Linked DNA regions of Homo sapiens: all the other regions are linked to region 3. Evidence: fine-mapped expression QTL. A gene starts in region 3. Each other region holds a variant in brackets. All regions are shown on one strand. Distances are from middle to middle.

Region 1 (7,065 bases), 25 kb after region 3:
AGAGCCAGGGCCGCTGCCCATGACAGAGGGGCCAGGCTGGCCTCCCTTTCACCATCCCGGCCTCTCCCAGGGCTGGTCCTGCCTCAGCTCCTCCTGGAATGCTGGCCCCCCTCTCCCCTGCCTGAGCCCCCTCCTCCCCTCTTGCCTTCTCTCTGCCTCTCCCAGGCCCCTCTCCCTCCAGGAGGCGGGGCGGCTGTGGAGGGGCCAGGTGCACGCTGGGCTGGATGTCTGCTGGGGGCTGGGGGCCAGGGCGGCAGGTTGGAGTTGGGCGGCCAGGCCCCCCGTGTGGGAAGGGAGTTCCAGGGCCCACGCCAAGTCTCAGGGAGGAAACCAGGGGCTGCTTGGGGGGGGGGGTCTTGGGGGCCCTGTGGTGGCTCCCACCCCTCGCCTCCCCCACCCCGTGAGGCTGGCTGGAGGGGGCCAGAGCAGCTCTTTGGAAACTAGGGCAGCAGGGTTAGGAGGCCGGAGGCCCTGGGGTCACCGGCCAGCCACACAGGCACCGTTTTCAGATGTCCACTTCTCATTGGGTACATCAATCTTTTAACTTTGGGGGTCACAGTTTTAGCCACCTTTCGGGGGGTGACTGGAGCAGTAGGAGGTGTGGGGTCATTTTATGAATATAATAAAATGGAGCTGACTGTGGACGAGGACTAAGTGTGGGGGAGAGGGGACGATACAGGGTGTGTGTCTGGGAGTGCCTGGGGGACAGGGACCCCCCGGTGGTCCTATGGCAGGATGAGAAGGGAGGGACTTGGCTCCCCCAGAGCCCGGTGGAAGCTACTGTTCTCTCCAGTGTCTCGAGCGTAGCCAAAATAAGGTTGGGAGGCTCCCGGCCTGTCTGCTGTGGTCTGAGCTGGCTGCAAGCCCAGGTGGGGGAGCGAGTCTGGGAAGATTGGCTTTGACTCTCTGTTGCCGGAGGAGATGCCATCCCAGCACGGCCCCCACTGTAGTCCAGGCTCGTGGTGGCAGCGGGGGCAAGGGGAGGGGCAAGGCTGCCCCCACCCCACGCACCAAGTCACGCCAAGTCTCAGCAGGTAAAAGCACGTGAGCCTAGGGCGAGCGGAGGGAGTCCTGGTGGCCCCGCAGGTCAGGAGGGAAAGCAGGGCTCAGAGGGCATCGTGGCCCCAGGGCAGGGTCCTACCTGGGGGTCAGGAGCACCTTGGTCTTGATGATTGATTGATTGATTGATAGAATGGAGCTGGGTCTGAGCCTCCCAGGCTTGAGCTCCTGGGAGTTCTTGTGCGGTGAGCTGGGCAGCTCCTGGGTAGGTCCGGGCACCAAGCAGGCCCTGATGTGGACAGAGTCCCATCAGAGGGAGCTGATGAAGAATGGTCCCTGTAAGTAAGTCACTAGGTTCAACAACTGCCTGGCCGAGCACTCAGCCCGTGGAGCTCAGGCCAACACCAGAGCCCCGGTTTTAGGGGCCAGGAGAGCAGGTGACCAATTATTTGGGGAGTCTTGGGTAGAATTTCCGCCACACATTCTCCCCAGGGCTGCAGGGGTCTTCCGAGGCAGGGCGGTGGAGCAGGATTCAGGATGTGGTGGGAATAGAGTGAGGGGCAGTGGGTGGGCAGACCTGGGCGTCAGAGGTCCTGATGGGAAAGGAGGCAGGGGCTACCCAGAGAGGGGGGCTCGTGTGGCACAGCCCCCACCGACTCCGCCGTCCCCCTCCCCTGTGAGCCCCGGGGGCTGTACATACTCTACTCCATCCCCTTGTCCATCCCTGAGACCACCCCCGCCGCCCTTGCGTCGACTTAGCAACCACCTCATAGGCCCACCCACCTCGGGATCCGAGCCAACCATCCCACATCACAAACTTTGGTTTGGGGGACTTTACGTTCGTTTAATTTCTCATTTTGTACGGAGAAATATTCTTTTCAAAAGCGTCTTTTGACTGAAGTAACTTTCCTGGTGCTGTTGTTAACTCGTTCCTTTTTTTAATTTATTCCCCCACCCCAGGCAGCCCTCCTGGTTCCTACTCACCCTCCCCCCCTCCCCCACCCTCCGTCCCATCTGAACCATTTGTTTCTTTTCTTTCCGTCAGATTTTGGAAAAATTCTCCTCTCCTCCCCGCCCCCTCCACACCATCCTCCCCGATTTAAATATAGTCACTGCTACAAGTAACAGATGCACTGTGAAGATTCCAGTATTAATAAAGGTGTACTGTAATTAACACCCCTGCCTCTGCCTGGCTGCTTCCTACCCCATCCCCACACCTCACCTTTCCCACCCCAGATCCCAGCTGCAGGGGGACAGGCTGGGGGTTCCCAGAGGATCTCAGATCTCAATGTAGGTGCCAGGGCCAGACCTGGGTCTCTGAAATGTCCCATATGTGTCCCTGCTAGGGGCTGCCTGGGGGCAGCCAGATGGAGGGAGGGAGGGAGAGAGGGAGGGAGGGAGAGAGGGAGGGAGGGAGGGAGGATGGCAAGGGTCAAAGCCAAGGTATCAGCCCAACACCGCCTCCCCCAACCCAGGCTTGCAGAGGCCCCTGGGCTGGGCTGGGCTGGGCTGGGCTGGGCTGGGCTGGGCTGGGCTGGGCCGGAACTCCATCCCTGGCATCCCTCTCATTCCACATCCCTTGGGCAGGCTCCATCCACTCCAAATCCGCATCCTCAGCCCTGCCCCCCTCCACTTCCTGCACTTGGCCACCTCCCATCCCCGCCAGGTTCACCCCTGAAGATGCAAAGCAAAGCAAACCAAAGGAAGTGGGGTGTTTAATAGAAAAAAGAAACTGGAAGAGCATCCACTATGGCAAGATGTGGCACTTGGCACCGCCCTCTGCCCCCAGCTCCCCAGTCTGCCAGGCTGGGGGGTCATAGAATGGCCACGCCGTGCTGGCTGTCTCCCCTGCAACCCACAGCTGTGCCCTCACTGCTGCGGGCCACAGGAGGCTCAGTACCCCCTTTAGGCGGGGGGACAGTGAGGGCAGCACCAGGAGAAGCCAGGAGCTGTGTCCCCATCCACCTTCAGGTCCCCAGGTCCCCTCCGCTCCAGGTGAGGCCATGACAGCTATGGAAGGCAGGAAGCTGAGCCCTGCTGTGGCACAGAATCCCCCTCAAAGGAAAAACACCCTTCCCAGGGGTCCTCTCCCAAGGGGGGCTCCCACCACCACCCCTTGAAGTCTCAGACCCAGTTGAACTCCTGTGGGAGCTGGTCTGGCTGCCCCTATCCGCAGTCACCATCCAGGGTGCTCAGGGCAAGAGGCCCTCGCCCTGTGCCCTGACCGGCCTCACCGAGCCCGTGGAGTGAGGCGGGGAGCTGGGGGACCACGGGGGCGGAGG[G/T]TACAGCTGGGTGGCCGCATACTGCAATGAGGGCTCTGGGCTGCAAGACTGAGGACTTGGCACCTCACAGTCCTGCCAGTTTAGGACGGAGCTTTGTTTACCTGCAAGAGATAGGGGAAAAAAAAAAAGACTGCAGCAGTGTTCAAGACCACCCTCCCCACTAAGCCAAGCCGCATGTGCTTGTCCCCCACTCTACCCAGGGCCCATCCTGGCTTCCAGAAATGGCTTGTAGCCCCGGGGAGCAGAGGATATGCCCGGGAGGACGCCAGCTCTGCCAGCTGGCCTGGGTGGGCCCAGATGCCTGGCCTCCCACCCCCAGGCGCCATCCCCTGAGAGCTCCTTACAGCAGGAGCAGTACAGCAGCTCCATGACCCGGAAGCAGTTGTCCAGCAGGGCTTTGGGCCGCACCAGCTTCAGGTTTGGCCCTGGGGCATTCAAGAGGGACAACACGGATTCCACCTTGGGGCTGACCTCCACATCCTGGAAAGGAGGAAACAGTCAGGAGCGGTGGCGAGATGGGGCCGCACCCCAGGAGAGCCGTGAGGGCTGTCCAGTCACCTGGAGCTGCCCAAACCCCGGAAGAAGGACCAGACTTCCTGTGACCATGAGCCTGGATAGCTATTTCTCACCATCTTCTTCCTGTGGGCATGGGGAGGGTCCCAGATGCCACCACTCACCCATGTACAACTCAGAGGCTTCGCTTTTCCATCCTTGAAAAATGAGTAAAGGGCGTAGACCAGGACAGTGAGGAAAGTGGGGCAAACTGCACCCAGGCACGGCCACCCACCACTGCGTGAGGACCCCCTGACCTGGGGAAAACTGTCCCTCAAGAAGCAGACATCTCCATCAACTCCAAGGAACAAGAGAAGGTCCTCACAGAGACACTGAGGCTTAAGTCACATACACAGGGCAGGGTGTCCAGCTTCAAGCTGGGGTGCTTTCTCTCCACGATATGCAACAACAGGGTCATGTGGGGTGCACCGTGGCACCAAGGGAATCAAGTCCCTGAACAGGAGGTCAGGGCCACTGTAGAAAGCATCATGGGAAACGTGGGGGGTGATCTTCTGGAAGGGGGTGACAACAAGGCAACATGTCCTGGGCCAAATTGTCCCTCTCCTCCCCCAAAAAGCTGTCTTGGTCCTACCCCTTGGTACCCGTGAATGTGACCCTATTTGGAAATAGGTTCTTTGCAGAGGTAATTAAGTTCAGGATCTTAGAAGGACATCATCCTGGATTTCAGGTAGGCCCTAAATCCAATGCCTGATGTCCTTGTAAGAGAAAGGTGACAGACATGGAAACAGGGCAGAAGGCCATGAAAAGACTGAGACGGCCAGGAATGGTGGTTCAACCTGTAATCCCAGCACTTTGGGAGGCTGAGGGAGGCATATCACTTGAGGCCAGGAGTTCAAGACCAGCCTAACCAACATGGCAGAACCCCGTCTCTACTAAAAATACAGGTGTGGTGGCAGGCATCTATAATCCCAGCTACTTGGGAGGCTGAGGCAGGAGAATTGCTTGAACCTGGGAGACGGAGGTTGCAGTGAGCCAAGATTGCCCCACTGCAATGCACCTGGGCGACACAGTGAGACTCCGCCTCAAAAAAACAAAAAAAGCCACCACAGAGGCCAGGCAGGATGTAATCCCAGTCCTGTAATCCCAGGACTTTGGGAGGCTGAGGCAGAAAGATCACTTGAGGCCAGGGGTTCAAGACCAGCCTGGGCAACATAGCGAGACCCCCATCTCTAAAACAATAAAAAAGAAATAAAATGAAATAAACAGGAAAAAGAGCCACCAAGCAGATCAAGGAGTCTCCTGACTTTGTAGGAATTGACAGCCTCCCCACCAGTCTGGTTCCAGGAAAGCTCCAGGCAGCTGCAAAACAGGTGCTAGTCCCTAAGCCCTTTCACCGTCGGAAGCTCACAGTTGGCCTGGGATGTTCTCCCGACAAGCTGGGCCTTGTCAGCAGCTGGCTGGGCAGGGCAGCAGGTGGATCCCAGGGACAGGTGTGCACCAGAGTCCTGAGGAGGTCTGGTGGAGACGGGGAGAGGTCCCACCGCACACACGGCCTGCATGGGTCATCTCGCCACCTTCCTTTTTTACTACAACTCAGGCATTTTAGAGGATAATATCCCTGAGGCCTCAGATCAATTTCTCTGAGCGGGTCAGGGATGGGGGACCTCTTTTTTTAATTAACTAAAGTCCATAATTTACATTAGGGCTCACACTCTCTGTTGTACAGTTCTGTGGGTTGTGACAAATGCATGATGTCATGTATACAACATGAATGCATTATACAGCATAGTTTTTTGTTTTTTGTTTTGAGATGGAGTTTTTCGTTCTTGTTGCCCAAGCTGGAGTGCAATGGTGCAATCTCAGCTCACTGCAACCTCTGCCTCCCAGGTTCAAGCGATTCTCCTGCCTCAGCCTCCTGAGTAGCTGGGATAACAGGTGCCCACCACCAGGACTGGCTTATTTTTGTATTTTTAGTAGAGACGGGGTTTCACCATTTGGCCAGGCTGGTCTCAAACTCCTGACCTCGGCCTCCCAAAGTGCTGGGATTACAGGCATGAGCCGCCGCGCCCGGCCTGCAGCATGTTTTACTGCCCTAAACATTCCCTGTGCTCCATCCATTCTTCCCCTCTCCCCCTACCCCACCTCCAGGACCCTCGTGTTGCAGAAACAAAGAGGGTACGATGACTTGCCCAGGATCCAGAGGGAGAGAGGCAGAGCCTAGAACAGAGTCTCAGAGGCATCGCCTGCACCCCGAGCCCGGCTCTCATGACCACCACGGCTGCCTCTTCCTTCCACAGGCCTCTTTTCCTGCACCCCTCCCCCACTTCTCCCACGTCCCTCTGCTTGTGCCCATCTTTCCGTGTATTCACCCTTTCCCTCACTAGCCTTTGGCCACACCTCACACACATGTACACACGTGTGCACACACACACACCCCACCTGCCACTCCTCCACACAACTCACCGTGAGGCCCTGCTGGACATTCAGCAGCAGCGTCTCCACCTCCTGCAGGTACTTCCAGGATGGGTGGCCCTCGAGCAGCACGTCCTGCACCGACTCAGTGGCACTGAGGCTCACCAAGACCCACAGATACCGCAGCTCCCGCTCGCTCACCTGGGCCCTCTGCTGCGGAAACAGGGAAGTCACTGCAACTCGGGAGACATGGGCCTCTGGGCTCTGACCACTCCCTCACCAGGGACTTGCCCCTGCATAGGGAGCAGACGCGGGCCGTCCGCTGTGGACAGTGGACAAACATGTGCCTGGGCCAAGGGCCAGCCTGCTCTCGGGGCTGAGGAGAGGCCCCAGGCCAGCAGCACCACCTGCCAGTCCCAGCGCGCCTCTGAGGCTGGGGCCCACCGGATGTCGCAGGAGGCAGGGTCCCCCCAGCCCAGGAAGGGATTCTCACCAGCCTGGTGACGTTGGCGATTCTGAACACCCCCTCGTAAGGCACACTGATCTTGTAGTTGATGGGGAAGTAGTGTTTCTGGAGAGGCACAAGAACAAACTATGAGGCCAGAAGTAGAAATGACCAGCAGGCTCCCCAACCTCCCAAATGATGTTTTTTTTAACAGTTAGTCTCACTCTGTCACCCAGTATGGAGTGCAGGGGCAGCATCATGGCTCACGGAAGCCTTGACCTCCCAGGCTCAAGCAATCCTTCCACCTCAGCCTCCCAAGTAGGTGGGACTACAGGTGTGTGCCACCACGCCCAGATGATTTTTTTATTTTTTGTAGAGATGGGGTTTCTTCTTGTTGCCCAGGCTGGTCTTGAA
Region 2 (5,000 bases), 44 kb before region 3:
GGGCCTCCCTCTGATGAGTGAAATCGGAACCCCTGGGGTGATGGGGTTATTAAAGTGGTCTGGGGTGCTTGGGGACTGAGTAGACTACCGACTACCATGGTCTGGGGGTCAGGAGTTGAAGGAGTCCCGGCAGGGGCCTAGGCTGTATGGGGCTTCAAGGCAAGAAGGAGCCTGGGGAGCTCATCTTGCTGTAAACTAATAAGCAGCTTCAGCCTGTGGGCCACAGTGAGGATCAGAGACCTTACTCAGGGGTCAGCACGGAGGCACTGACAGGGCTTGAGCAGGGGATCAACGTGACTGGATTTCTGGCTTGAAAGACAACTGTTGCTGGGGCGAATGGGTTGGAGGGGCTGAGGTGGAGCCAGCTGGGAGGCTGTTGTCCAAGCAGAGACTGTGGCAGCTTGTGAGGGGGATGGGAAGCTGCAGCCGGATTCGAGAATGAGGATTCGAGACTGAGTAGGAAGTAGATTTGTCTGGTGACTGATGTGGAGAGAGTGAGGGGAGAGGGAGCTGGGAGTGTCAGGGTGTCCAGGCCTCTGGTTTGGGCAGCGGGTGGATGGTGATGCCAGTCCCCGAGGTGGGAGCCCCGGAAGAGTGGCAGGGAGTGAGGAGGGGGTGCATGTTTGAGTTTGAATTACTTTGGGGGCATCAAAAAGAAGGTATTGAAGAAGTAGTTTGCTGTACCAGGCTCTCCAAGGGGGTACCGAGGCCCAAGATACAATCTCGAAATTGATGGCATAGTCATTCATTCATTCATTCATTCAACAGATGTTTACTGAACACTAACTCTGTGCAAGGGACCATTCTAGATGGTTCTGCACTTGTGGAGCTTTCATTCTTAGGGAGTTCTTAAGAAGAGGTCGAGTGAGAGGGAAGGGGTCTGAGGCTGAACCCTACGTGTTCCAGACTGTAATGGTTGGGGAAAGAAGGAGAAGCCAGAAAAGGAGGCTATGACGAAGGGCCAGAGAGGTAAAGGAAGCGGCCAAGCAGGGAGATGGCAGGAGGCAGTGAGGGAGGTGAGACCCGGGGATGGTCTGCTGCGAGCCGCTGCAGGAGCCTGAATGCTGCTGGGGGAGTTGAGGGAGTGGAGCGTACAGGAGGTGACCGGCCAGCTCAGGAGCTGAGGTGGAGTTGAGGGCACCCTGGGGATGGGGCCGCAGAATTGAGTTGTGGGAGAGGACAGGCCTGCCTGACCAGAAAGACAAAGAGCAGGACCACAGTGGGGGACAGGGCTTCTGATGGTCTGGCCACCAAAAGGATGCCCCTGTGATAGTGGGGAGGCTGTCACCACCCTCTTGCTTCTCTGGGCTCTTCTAGAGCAGGGCTTCTCGAACTCAGCGCCGTTGGCATTGGAGCCGGATAGCTCTTCGGGATGGCAGCTGTCCTGCGCCCTGTAGGATGTCAGCAGCATCCCAGGCCTCTGCCCCCTGAATGCCAGTAGCACTTGCATTCACCCAGTTGGGACCGTCTGAAATGTCTCTAAACATTGCCAGAGGTCCCCTAGGGAGGAGAATCACCCCAGTTGAGAACCACCGTGTCAGAGAGACAGAAATGGATTCTTAACCTTCATTGGCCAAAAGAGGAAGATTTCCATGGTGTTTCTTCCCATCACGTTGGCCAGTTTCAGGTAGGGAATTGAGGTAGAGGTTAGCTATGGTGCAAGAGGCCCCCCCACCAGGAAAGCAGCGGAATGTTCCCACAAGAGTGACAGTTAACATCATGTGGTTTTCCAAATTGCAGAGGCATCAGTACTCATGATGAGCTCTCCTTGCCTGGACGACTTTCAGGGAGTCAGTGGAAGGAGAGGCCTTTGGAGGAGGAATCTATAGCTAGAGTCCCCTCTGGAGAACTGGGCTGAGGTGGGTTTTCCACCCTGTCTCAGCCCCACATGACCAAGACGCATGGCGAGAAGGAGTTTGGGGTAGTAACCAGCATCTCCAGGCTGCATGGA[G/A]CAGAAGTGCAGGCCCCATGGGCATGCTTGCATGCCCTCCCCACCCGCTCAGGGCCTGAGGCTCTGTGAAGCTGGAGGCCAGCCCACTGCCATGTTCCCAGGTGCAGACTCCAGGCCAGGGAGGCTTTGCTTGCTTTGCAGTGCATCTCCTGGGCTTCCTGGGCTCACGGGAATCGTCATTTTGCAGAAGGGAAAATAAGAGGAAGTAACGTGCCCACTGGGCTGGGCAGGAGCTGGGCTGCAAACTCCTGCACTCTGCTAATTCAGCAGCCGCCACTTTGTCCCTTCTGTGTGGGAGTGCAGAGCCTGGTGCCGTGAGAGGCCCTGAACATCCTGCGTGCCAGGACCACCTGAGGCCCAGCTCCTCAGCGTGCTCAGGAGCTGGGCCAGTGGGTCCTCCCTTCCCACCCTCCAGGGGCTCAGTATGGCGATCGCTTGCTCTTCTGGGGCTCAAACCTGCCATGGGCCACACTGGGTTCTCAGTGGAAATTGAGGCTGGCCTCCAGGCCTCACTCCCACCCGCACAGCCACAGAAGGTCTCTTAGCCATTGGCATCCCCACTAGAAGCCCAGTGGGCTGGGACAGAAGGAACCTTGTGGCTGGGCCTTTCACAGAGGACTGGGTCTCTCCTAGTCCTTCACCCGGTTTCTCCAGACTGCTGTCCCCCAAAAGCAGCACCCACACCTGTCAATGTGCATCCTGGCGGACAGCCACCTGGCCCAGCTGGTTCGGGAACCTGCTGCCCACTCTGCCAGCACACCAAGCCATTGTCAACCAGCTCCAGGGTTGCAGGCCCAGCCACCCAGTCTGGGGGCACACACAGCATCTGACATGGAAAAGGCCCTGCAAACATGTGGCTTCCTCCATCCTCCCCATGCTCCTGTGGGGGGCTGAGGCCGTTCCAAAGAGCTTTGTTGAGGTGGAGGGGGGTATCCACCTGCCCTCCTGCTTCTCCATTGCACTTCCTTTTCTCCTGCGATGACTTTAAAGAGGGGCATCGTTGGCTGGGTGCAGTGGCTCATGCCTGTAATCCCAGCACTTTGGGAGGCCGAGGTGTGCGGATCACGAGGTCAGGAGTTCAAGACCAGCCTGGCCAACATAGCGAAACCCCGTTTCTACTAAAAATATAAAAATTAGCCAGGCATGGTGGCACATGCCTATAATCCCAGCTACTCGGTAGACTGAGGCAGGAGGATCGCTTGAACCCAGGAGGCGGAGGTTGCAGTGAGCCAAGATCACACCACTGCACTCCAGCCTGCGCGACAGAGCAAGACTTCGTCTCAAAAAAATAAATAAAAATAAATAAATAAATAAAGAGAGGCATCGCGATGGTTCCGCAGATGCTGGCATGAAGCCACAGGCCTGATGAGGAGCACAATGATTTCTTAACCCCCTCTTTAGCTGTTAGGCAAACTCTAAATTGTTCTTCTCAGCCTCCAAGATTGCACACTGAGAAAGAAAGGAAAGAGATTCTTCTGGCCAGCAAGTGAAAAGCTGTTCTTTTGGCAGGAGTGTGTTTAGCTCTGGGACCTGGAGCGGCTGCTATAGAAAGACAGAGGCATCGGGAGTTCTTGAAGACACACATCTGGTGGGGGTTCTTGGCATTGAGGAAGATGCATGATTTCCCTAAAGACCCTGGGAGCGTTTCCTCTTCCCCAGGCAGCTTTCCCAGGCCGCACCTCCATGTCGGAGTCAGTGGGGGTGAGAACGGGGTACCCAAGCTCCAGCCAGGCTTGAGTGGGTTGGACTTCCTGTCGGTGTCCACACAGCCTCCTTTTCTGGTGGACATAACGGTTGAGATGCATGTCAAGGTGAAGCCAGTGGCTTTAAAACCTTCATTTTTTAGCCAGCTACTCTGGCTCCAGGCCCTTTCCTTAGCAGCAGGGAGTTGAGGCCAAGCTCACAGATAGAGCGAAGATGGCGACATGTGCGGTGGGGTGCTGTACCCCCACTCCCTCCACGGGACTTTGCAGGACTAAGGCAGATGAGCCTCCCGAGGCACTCATTTGGGGCTCAAACCCCAATTCCTCCCATTTTTAACTGTGTGACCTGTTTCCAAGGCCTTTCTGCTTTGTCTGTGACGCAGCGATGATAGTGCCTGCCGTGTCATAGTGTGGTGGGGTTATATAAATGGCGCATGTCTCAGCCCCAGTGCTGGCTGTGTCTGATAAAGCGGGGCTGTTGTTCAGCCTCCCCACAGGGCTTGTGCTTCCCAGGGTGGTCTGTGGAGGGGGAACCACACCCCTGAGGGGATGAAATCATGGCACCTTCCGTGCCGAGAGCTGGCTCCAGTGCACCGGCCCTGTTGCCCCAGTGCCCAGGGCACCCACCAGCGGCCCGGCCCGGCTCCGCTAAAACAACTCTGCCCGGAGTAGGTGTTGGTGTGCGTTGCCTTCCCCCGGCCTCTTCCCACCCTCCATGCTAATGCAGGCAGAACAAGCCCAGGCCTTGTCTCCCCGTGAACCATCCACTTATCCTCAGTAGAAAGGAGAGGAGGGAGAAAACCCAGCCTCTTTGATAAACTGTGATATGAACTCCAGCGTGACCCGACAGCTGTGATCTTTACAAGGCCTGCTTCTGTGCTGGGAAGCGAGCAAGTCTGAAGACAGTCGCTCTGCCTGCCAACACGGCCCTCCGGCCAGCCGCGCTTTGGCTTCAGCGACTGTGCATTTTTCCCCTCCTCTTCCTCCCTGCCGCCTTGCAGAGAGGACTGGTGGAGAATGCTTGCATCTGTAATGAGCCACTGTATGCGGTGAATGCCAGGGCCTGATCCGAACCGGCCCAGTTAATGGTAGATGAGGTCCGAGCCACCTCCCAGGAGAACAGGGCACTCCTAAGATGAGGCGGGCATTTGGAGAGGATGGGGCCCACAAGGGAAAGGAGGAAGCAGTCATGGGACTTCTTTCACGAGATCCTGACCCAGAGAAGCCCAGCAGCAAGGCTTCCGGTTCATTCTGGGCCTCCTCTCACCTCTGCTACAGACAGGCGTGGCAGCCTGTCCAGCTGAGCAAATGCTCAGTCCCTAATATGTGCCTCTGCTACTGCCCCT
Region 3 (6,803 bases):
TGACAGGCCTGGCACGGAGGAGGGCCCACCGAGTGGTCCCATGAAACACTAAGGGTCGTCACGCCCTCCCGAGGAGCTCAAGGACCTGCCTGTCAGGACCAGGGCTGGGCCTGCCAACCCAGGGCAGTGTTGGGGCCGGAGGCTGCTGTGTCTGCCCAAGCTCCTCTCAGAGTCCAGTCCCCAGGCCTCCAGCGCTGTCAGCTGCACCCTGGCATTCTCACAGAGCTGGCTGCCCACCCAGTGGGGGGCTATAGCCTCAGAGACCACTCATCCTCTGGAATCAACCTCTTTCTAATACCCTCTTGGAAAAAGAGCTTGCCCCTCCTCCAGCACACTAGAGCTCTGGCCTTGTGTGTATATGTATACATACGTGAACACATGCCTGTGTGTGTGTGTGTGTGTGTGTACTTGTATGCACGTAGGCACCAGCACAAAGATCTGAATGATGCACCCCACCCCCACCCCAATAAAGAAATAACAGAAAACCCTCAACCCGAGCCGGCCTGCTCCTTCCCAGCTGACACGTGCAGCTGTCCGGGGGCCTCACCCTCTGTCCTGGAGATCGGGTTTCATGATGGCCCCAAGGAGTACTGGCTGCCCCAGGGCCTGGTCCCTGCACTCACCTGAGTGGAGCCATGGGCCTAGAGCCTAGGTCCCCACCTCTGGAACCTGCACCCTCCTGGAGAGCACCATGCACTGCCTGCCCTGGAATCCTGAACCCTGCCTTCCCCAATCTGCCTTTCTCATCCTGACTCCCTGGGGCAATGGGAGTTCCCCACTGGGGACATGGGAGCTGAGCCCCAGGAGTTCCTGGATGAAAGGGCAATGCACACTGCAGAACACTTTGCAGATCTCGGGGCAAGGGGAGGAAAAGCCCAGAGCAGTCCAGGGAGGGGCAGGTGCCCCAACCACTGCTGCAGCTGAAAGCCCTTCCTCACCGGGAGTGGTACCACCTGTCCCCAGGCTTTGGGAACCCTGGGCTTGGTCTCCTAATGAGCTTGTAATTGGCTCCCTCCGGCCCATGGAGTAGGCGAGAAGGAGCTTGTGCCTGCTCTTCCCCAGAGTGCGCTCCCCCATCGTGCTGCCCCCCAGGGTGGGTTTCCCTGCCTGGAGTCTCCAGGACAGGCTGCGATTGACATTGCTACCCCATGCACGTGTGTGCATCGCACCCACCGTGGACTCAGGCAGCAGAGACCAAGGACACTCCAGCTCTGCTCTGCAGGTCCGACATTAGCCCCCACCCGCGAAGAAGGAGGTTGTTCAAGGCCCAGGAGACTACCACTGCCCCCCAAATGCCCAGCCTTGGGCACCCCATCCGGGTGGCATCGGCACCACTTGGAGAAGGAGCCAAGGAACTTGGAAGGGTCCGAACTTGAGGAAGGTCTGTGCCTGCGATGAAACGTCCCAAGGCGGGCGGCTCCACGATACCCCGCGCCCTGCTGTGTGCGGTGTATGCCACCCATCCAGCCCATGCACCGACCCCATCCCGCCACTGTACCCACTGCCTGTCTTTAGAAGCGCGAGAAGCCCCCCGCCCCAGACCAAAGGCCAGAAGATATCGTGGAGCCCCTGCCCGGGGGCCGAGGCCCAACCGCCAGTCCCGCTCCTGCGTGGGCAGGGCGGGCCCCGCCCAGCGCCGCCCCCCGACCCTCGGTGGCGCCCGCGCCCGTCGGCCCCGCTCGCCGGACCAGTCTGGCAGCGCCCGGGCTCGGATTTCAAAGCCCTGGTTTCTGGCCGTGAATGGGCCTGCGCCCGCGCGGCCGTTCCCACAGCCCCCTCCCGCGCGGCCCGCCCTCCTTCCCTCCCTCCTCGCGGTCCCCCCTCCGCCGCGCCCACGTGACGCCCGATCCTCGGCGGCTCGGATTACCGCCGCCGTCAGTCCCCGCGCCGAGGCTGCGCCGCGAGCTGCCCGCGCCGCGCCCCCCGCGCCGCCCGCCAGCCCCGCTGCGACATGGCCCGCGCCGCCCGCCGGAGGCCCGCGACCCCGGAGCGCGGCGCGGCCGGCCGCTGAGCGCAGCCTGGAGGCGGGAGGCCCGGCCCGGCCTCGGAGCGAGCGCCCGCGCGGCCTGGCCCCCTCCCTTGCGCTGCTCCCCGCGCTCCGTGCGCCTAGCCGCCGCCGCGGCCCGGCCCAGCCAGAGCATGGAGACGGCGGAGAAGGAGTGCGGCGCCCTGGGCGGGCTCTTCCAGGCCATAGTCAACGACATGAAGGTAACCGGGGCGCGGCGGGGCCGGGCGCGCGGCGACGGGTGCGGGACCCCCCGGGGACGCGTGGCGGCGGGTGGCCGAGCCTCGTGTGGCCGCGCGCCGCGGTGTCTGTGTGTCCTTGTCTGAGCGCGTCCTGCCTGCGTCTGCTGGGCGCCCGTGTCTCCGGGTGCCCGTCTGGGGGTGTGGGTGCTCGTGTGTCGGGGTGTCCGTGCGGTGCCCGCGGTGGCCCCGTGGGGTCCTGACCCGAGCCTGTGCACACGCAGGCTCCCTGCGCCCCAGACCGCCAAACCATGAATGGGGTTTGGATCCAGGACCGACTCTAGGGCCCTTTAACGAGTCCGGGGTCTTACCGGCCTCCGCCCCCTTCCACCACCATGTTCCCCCACGGCCCCGGAGCCCAGACAATGCTGTCACCGCCAAAGCAGGAAAAAATAATAAAGCGGAGAACCGTTAACTCCTTCCCCGCCGACCTAGGCCTCTGCACCCGACCGTGAGACTGCGTCCCCCAGCCCCGCCCCACCCCCACAGCCCCAGGAAGCTCCAGGACTCCAAGGTCTCCAGGCTGAATGTCCCTGCATCCCAAGGATAGGCCTTGATCATCACCTTGGGAGGAGGCGGGATGAAGGTTGGGGTCGGTGGAGCAACCCCAAGGAAGCGCTTTTCCTACCCCATTACCACCCTGGGCTCTCAGCTCCGAGCCCTCCTTGTCTCCCAGGATTGCTTAAGGTCAGGCTGGATCCAACCACCCATTCATTCCTCACCCCACCAGGTGGGGAAACTGAGGCCTGGAAATGGCTCAAGGTCACTAAGGAGACTATTGGACCCTTCCCCTGACCTCAGCCCCCATTTTTCCTCCTGGGAAAATTAGTGGGTTCCTCTCCCCAAATGAGGCCAGGGTTTGGCAGGGCTGCCCTACGCTGACTAGGCAGAGAGGGCCCAGCTCCAGTGATAGGGTGGGGGCCAGGAACCAGTATTCCTGCCCTCCTGCCGTGCCCCCTTTCCTTAGCCTAGGATGAAGGGGCAGGATTTGGGGGCTGGGAGAAGGGGAAAGAACGAGGCACCCCACAGGATCTCCCAAGGGCCCCCACCCCCACAGCCCAGCGCAGATTCTCCAAGTGCACAACACAGAATCCCACCAGGCCAGGGATGGGGGTGACACCACCCAGTACAGTGCTGCTAGGACAGGCCCCGTGAGGGGTGGGGGTTGCTGGCAGGTTGGAGTTCGAGGCTCCCGGTGCTGCCAGGACAACAGCCCCAGGGACAGCTGCCAGATCTCTGCCCCCGGAAGAGGCCTGAAGCCAGCCTGGCCTGGGACTACCCAGTTAGCGGCTTGTAGATGCCCCCCACCCCCTGCCCCTCATGGTGCACTCCCCCTGGGACCCCCATCTCTTGCAACTGTACATCTGGGCCCCTCCGCTGGCCCCCAGCAGTCCCCACCTGTCCTGTGGACATCACAGCCCTGGCCCCAGGATCCTGTTAAGGGACTGGGCAACACAGACCACCCTCCCCTGGCCGATCCCAGAGCTGGCTCCGGATGGGCCTTCCCGCACCCCACCACCCACCACCACTGGCAGCCTCATAGCAACCACTGCAGAGAGCAGCAGATTTTGCTCGTGGAAGTGGACTAGGACAGTCTCTCTCCCTCTCCAGCCAATTTGCAAGGAACTTTGGGATGAGACAGAAGGAAGTGGGCCCAGATCATAGCAAGAGGTTCAAGCCAGACATCGGGCATGATTTGCTGACATGTGGAGGCAAAACAGGAGAGGCTTCACCTGGGATGATGCCAAGGACAGATTCGCCCCTACCTATGACACAGGCATGTGTTCAGGGGCCATGACCAGGGGCAGAGAAGGGGATGAGGCCACCTGGAAGCTGACCACCTGGATTTGCGGGGGCAGCTTCTGGATTTTCCCCTCGGTGGCCTGAGCAGCAGGGCCTCCGTAGAGGAAGGGCGGCCATCAGCAGCCAGGTTGAGGAGACTGAGCTTGCCCCGTGAGGCCACCCCACAGTGAGTCCACAGGCCCCACAGAAGCCCTCCCCTGGGCCTCTGGGAGGCCCTGACCTTGGGCTGAGCGGGGGCCAAGGTCAGATGCCCACTGGTGTCAGGCTGCCCATTGAAACCCAGAGAGGGGCAGAGACTTGCCAAAGGTCATAGTTCTGGGCACGGCACCTTCAGCAAGGTGAATGGGGCCTCCACCCAGTGCTGGCCCAGCCAGAAAATGGGGTCATACTCTTCACCCACCCCTCAAGAGTGGGGAATGTCACCTGGACACATAGGCCTGGCCAGGCCTCTGCTAGGGGCCCCTGCAGAGGGCAGGGCTTGCGTACTGTTAGCTGGTGTTAACTGAGCACTTACTGCGTGCTGGGCGCTGCGAGGAGTGCTGGCTGAGCAGCACCTGCTTCAATTTCCACACTGACCCAGTGGGGCAGGTGCTCCTCCTCTCCTGATTTTACAGGTGAAGAAACTGAGGCTCAGACAGGGGGCCCTTGCCCAGGGGCACCTGGAAAGCCCACTCCCTGGGATTGGAGGCTGGATTGCTCACCCACACTCCACATCTGAACCACAGCCACTGCCGGGACAGAGACAGAGTCCCCTCATCCCTGTCCACTTGGGCGCCTCTAATGAGAAGCCCCTCACCTCCCCACTCCAGAGCAGCCACTGTGCTTGGGGCAGAACTGGGTGTCTCTCACATCCCAGCAGTCCCTGCCGCCTCCCCAGCCTTGACGTTCAGTGCTTGTCTCCCTGCTTTGTAAGGGAGTCCCTCTACCTGGCGTGCAGTGACCAGGCAGACATGGGATCAGGTCCTGACCCCGCCACCCTGTGGCCGTGGGCAAATGAGCTAACCTCTACGGGCTTCTGTTTCCTTGTTGGTGAAATGGGGCTGTGGGGAAGGTTTACCTGGGCCTGTCCCAGGTGAAGGCTGAGGATGCTGTTCCTGGGGCACTGGCTGCTGGAGCCCTATCTCTTATTTTTAATCAGTGAAATTGACCTATCCATGAAGAGGCGGATATAAACAAATAAGACATAAGCTCTTTGTCTCTGGGGTCCTTTATGTGGTTACCGTGGGGAGGGGGGCGGGTCCAGGTCCTTAGAGACTGAGGCATCTAGGTCCATCTGCTGAGGGGAAATGGCCTGGCCTCCCCTGCGCCCCATCTTGTCCCCTCCCCATGGGGAGAGCCTTTAATCTCTGAGACTGCCCCAGGGCTGCTCAGGGGCTAAGAAGGTTCCTGGGTGCCAGGGCAGCTGGCTCTGGACCCCCCTCCACCCCTAGCAACTTCTCTGCTCCCTAAAGGGAGATCTTAGCAAGGTTTCAAGGCTGAGTGGGGGTGGGGGTCCAGGCGGTGGGAGAGCGCCCCCTTTTAGAAGACCCCCAAGGGGTACTCCAGGCATAGGTGGCATGAGTCCACTCCTTGGGACGGCTAGGAACAGCTTCCCAGGCCCCTTCACCCTGAGCTGTGCCCATTTGGGAACAGCCCACCCACAGCTTACCCACTCTTGCTTCAGCCTCTGTGGACTTTGCAAATATTTGCTTTCTCTGGACACTGGTTTGGTTGGGCTGGGAGGGGAGGGAGATTCTGAGGCCCCCTAAGCCGCCCTGTCTCCTTCCCACCCCTGCAAGCTCTCCTAGTCTGGCAGGGCAAGCCCTAGCCTGCTCCTGGGTTGCAGCCAGGCAGAGCCTCCCTCTGAGGCCCTGAGGGCCAGGGTCTCCGCATTCCCCTTTCCTCAGGAAGAGCCCCAGCCTCCATCGCCCCATCCTACATGGAAGGGAGGGTCAGAAGCCCCTGTGGGCTGGGGCTTGGCTGGCCCAGGGCTGCCCGTCAAGGGGCAAAACCTCCACAGGGCCCTTGGGCCAGGGCTGAGGTTTCTCCAGGACCCCGGGGCATGCGTTAACCAGAAAAGCCCCAAAATCAGATTGGACAACTCGGTGGCCAGGAGCCCGACCTCCCTATTGGGAAACCCCCTCCCAACTTGGAGCCTTGGGCCAGGCTGGGATAAAGGCCACACTGTTTCCCCAGGAGGGGAGGGGAGCAGGGGGTGGAGAAAGGTGGCTCTGTTGGCCGCACAAGGCCCCATTCAGCCCAGGGCCTGGTTGTCCCAGGCAGGCTAGCTGGGCCCTGCAGCAGCCACAGCCTCCTCGGCCCTGGGAGCCACTGCTGCTGGCCTGGGATGGCAGCTTCCAGGACACAGGGCAGGGGCCCCGGAGGCCCCAGTCTACACCTGGTGTGCCTTCAGCCCTGCCACCCCCTACCCTCCACACTGTGCCTCTGCCCCTGGTGGGCAGGTCAGTGCCAGTGTCCTAGGCACATGTCCGGGAGACACGATGCCTCTCATTGGGCTCAGCCCAGATCCCCTGCCAGGCCCCTGGGAAACCCCGAGGGGACAGGACCTGCCACTTCCTGCTCCATTTCCCCTGAGGGAGGATGTGAGCCCCCTGTAGCCTGTAGGGTGGATGTCCTGATGTCAGGGAGGGAGGGCTTGGCAAAGGCGCCCGTTCCCAGGGACAGGCTTTCCTCATGCTGATGGCTCTGTCCTTGGTCCTCTGCCCTCCGAGAGGACCCAGAGCCTCCCTCTCCATGGGGCAGGGCTGCTGTCTTAG

The links. PIP is the estimated chance that this variant, and not a neighbour inherited with it, causes the effect.
Region 1: its variant is the best candidate, but not a certain one, in a credible set for the expression of MTSS2 in tibial nerve (GTEx, PIP 0.68).
Region 2: its variant is the best candidate, but not a certain one, in a credible set for the expression of MTSS2 in whole blood (TOPMed, PIP 0.54).

Annotation. Positions count from the first base shown.
Region 1 is chr16:70,656,314-70,663,378 of GRCh38, reverse strand. It overlaps IL34 (interleukin 34), which reads right to left. Exons shown (of 6, transcript NM_001393494.1): 3 at 6,700-6,777; 4 at 6,258-6,419; 5 at 3,626-3,761; 6 at 2,697-3,382. The coding sequence ends at 3,192. MTSS2 (MTSS I-BAR domain containing 2) reads left to right here. Exons shown (of 15, transcript NM_138383.3): 15 at 1-2,175. Among named protein-coding and RNA genes, the nearest start is that of IL34, 13 kb to the right of the region's middle. The variant G/T (reference allele first, on the strand shown) is at 3,282.
Region 2 is chr16:70,725,591-70,730,590 of GRCh38, reverse strand. The region is part of intron 14 of VAC14 (VAC14 component of PIKFYVE complex); the gene reads left to right. Among named protein-coding and RNA genes, the nearest start is that of VAC14-AS1, 27 kb to the left of the region's middle. RefSeq lists an enhancer at 3,931-4,225. The variant G/A (reference allele first, on the strand shown) is at 1,952.
Region 3 is chr16:70,681,128-70,687,930 of GRCh38, reverse strand. It overlaps MTSS2 (MTSS I-BAR domain containing 2), which reads left to right and starts at 1,878. Exons shown (of 15, transcript NM_138383.3): 1 at 1,878-2,208. The coding sequence starts at 2,140. It overlaps VAC14 (VAC14 component of PIKFYVE complex), which reads left to right. Exons shown (of 19, transcript NM_018052.5): 19 at 1-492. The coding sequence ends at 3. RefSeq lists an enhancer at 1-350.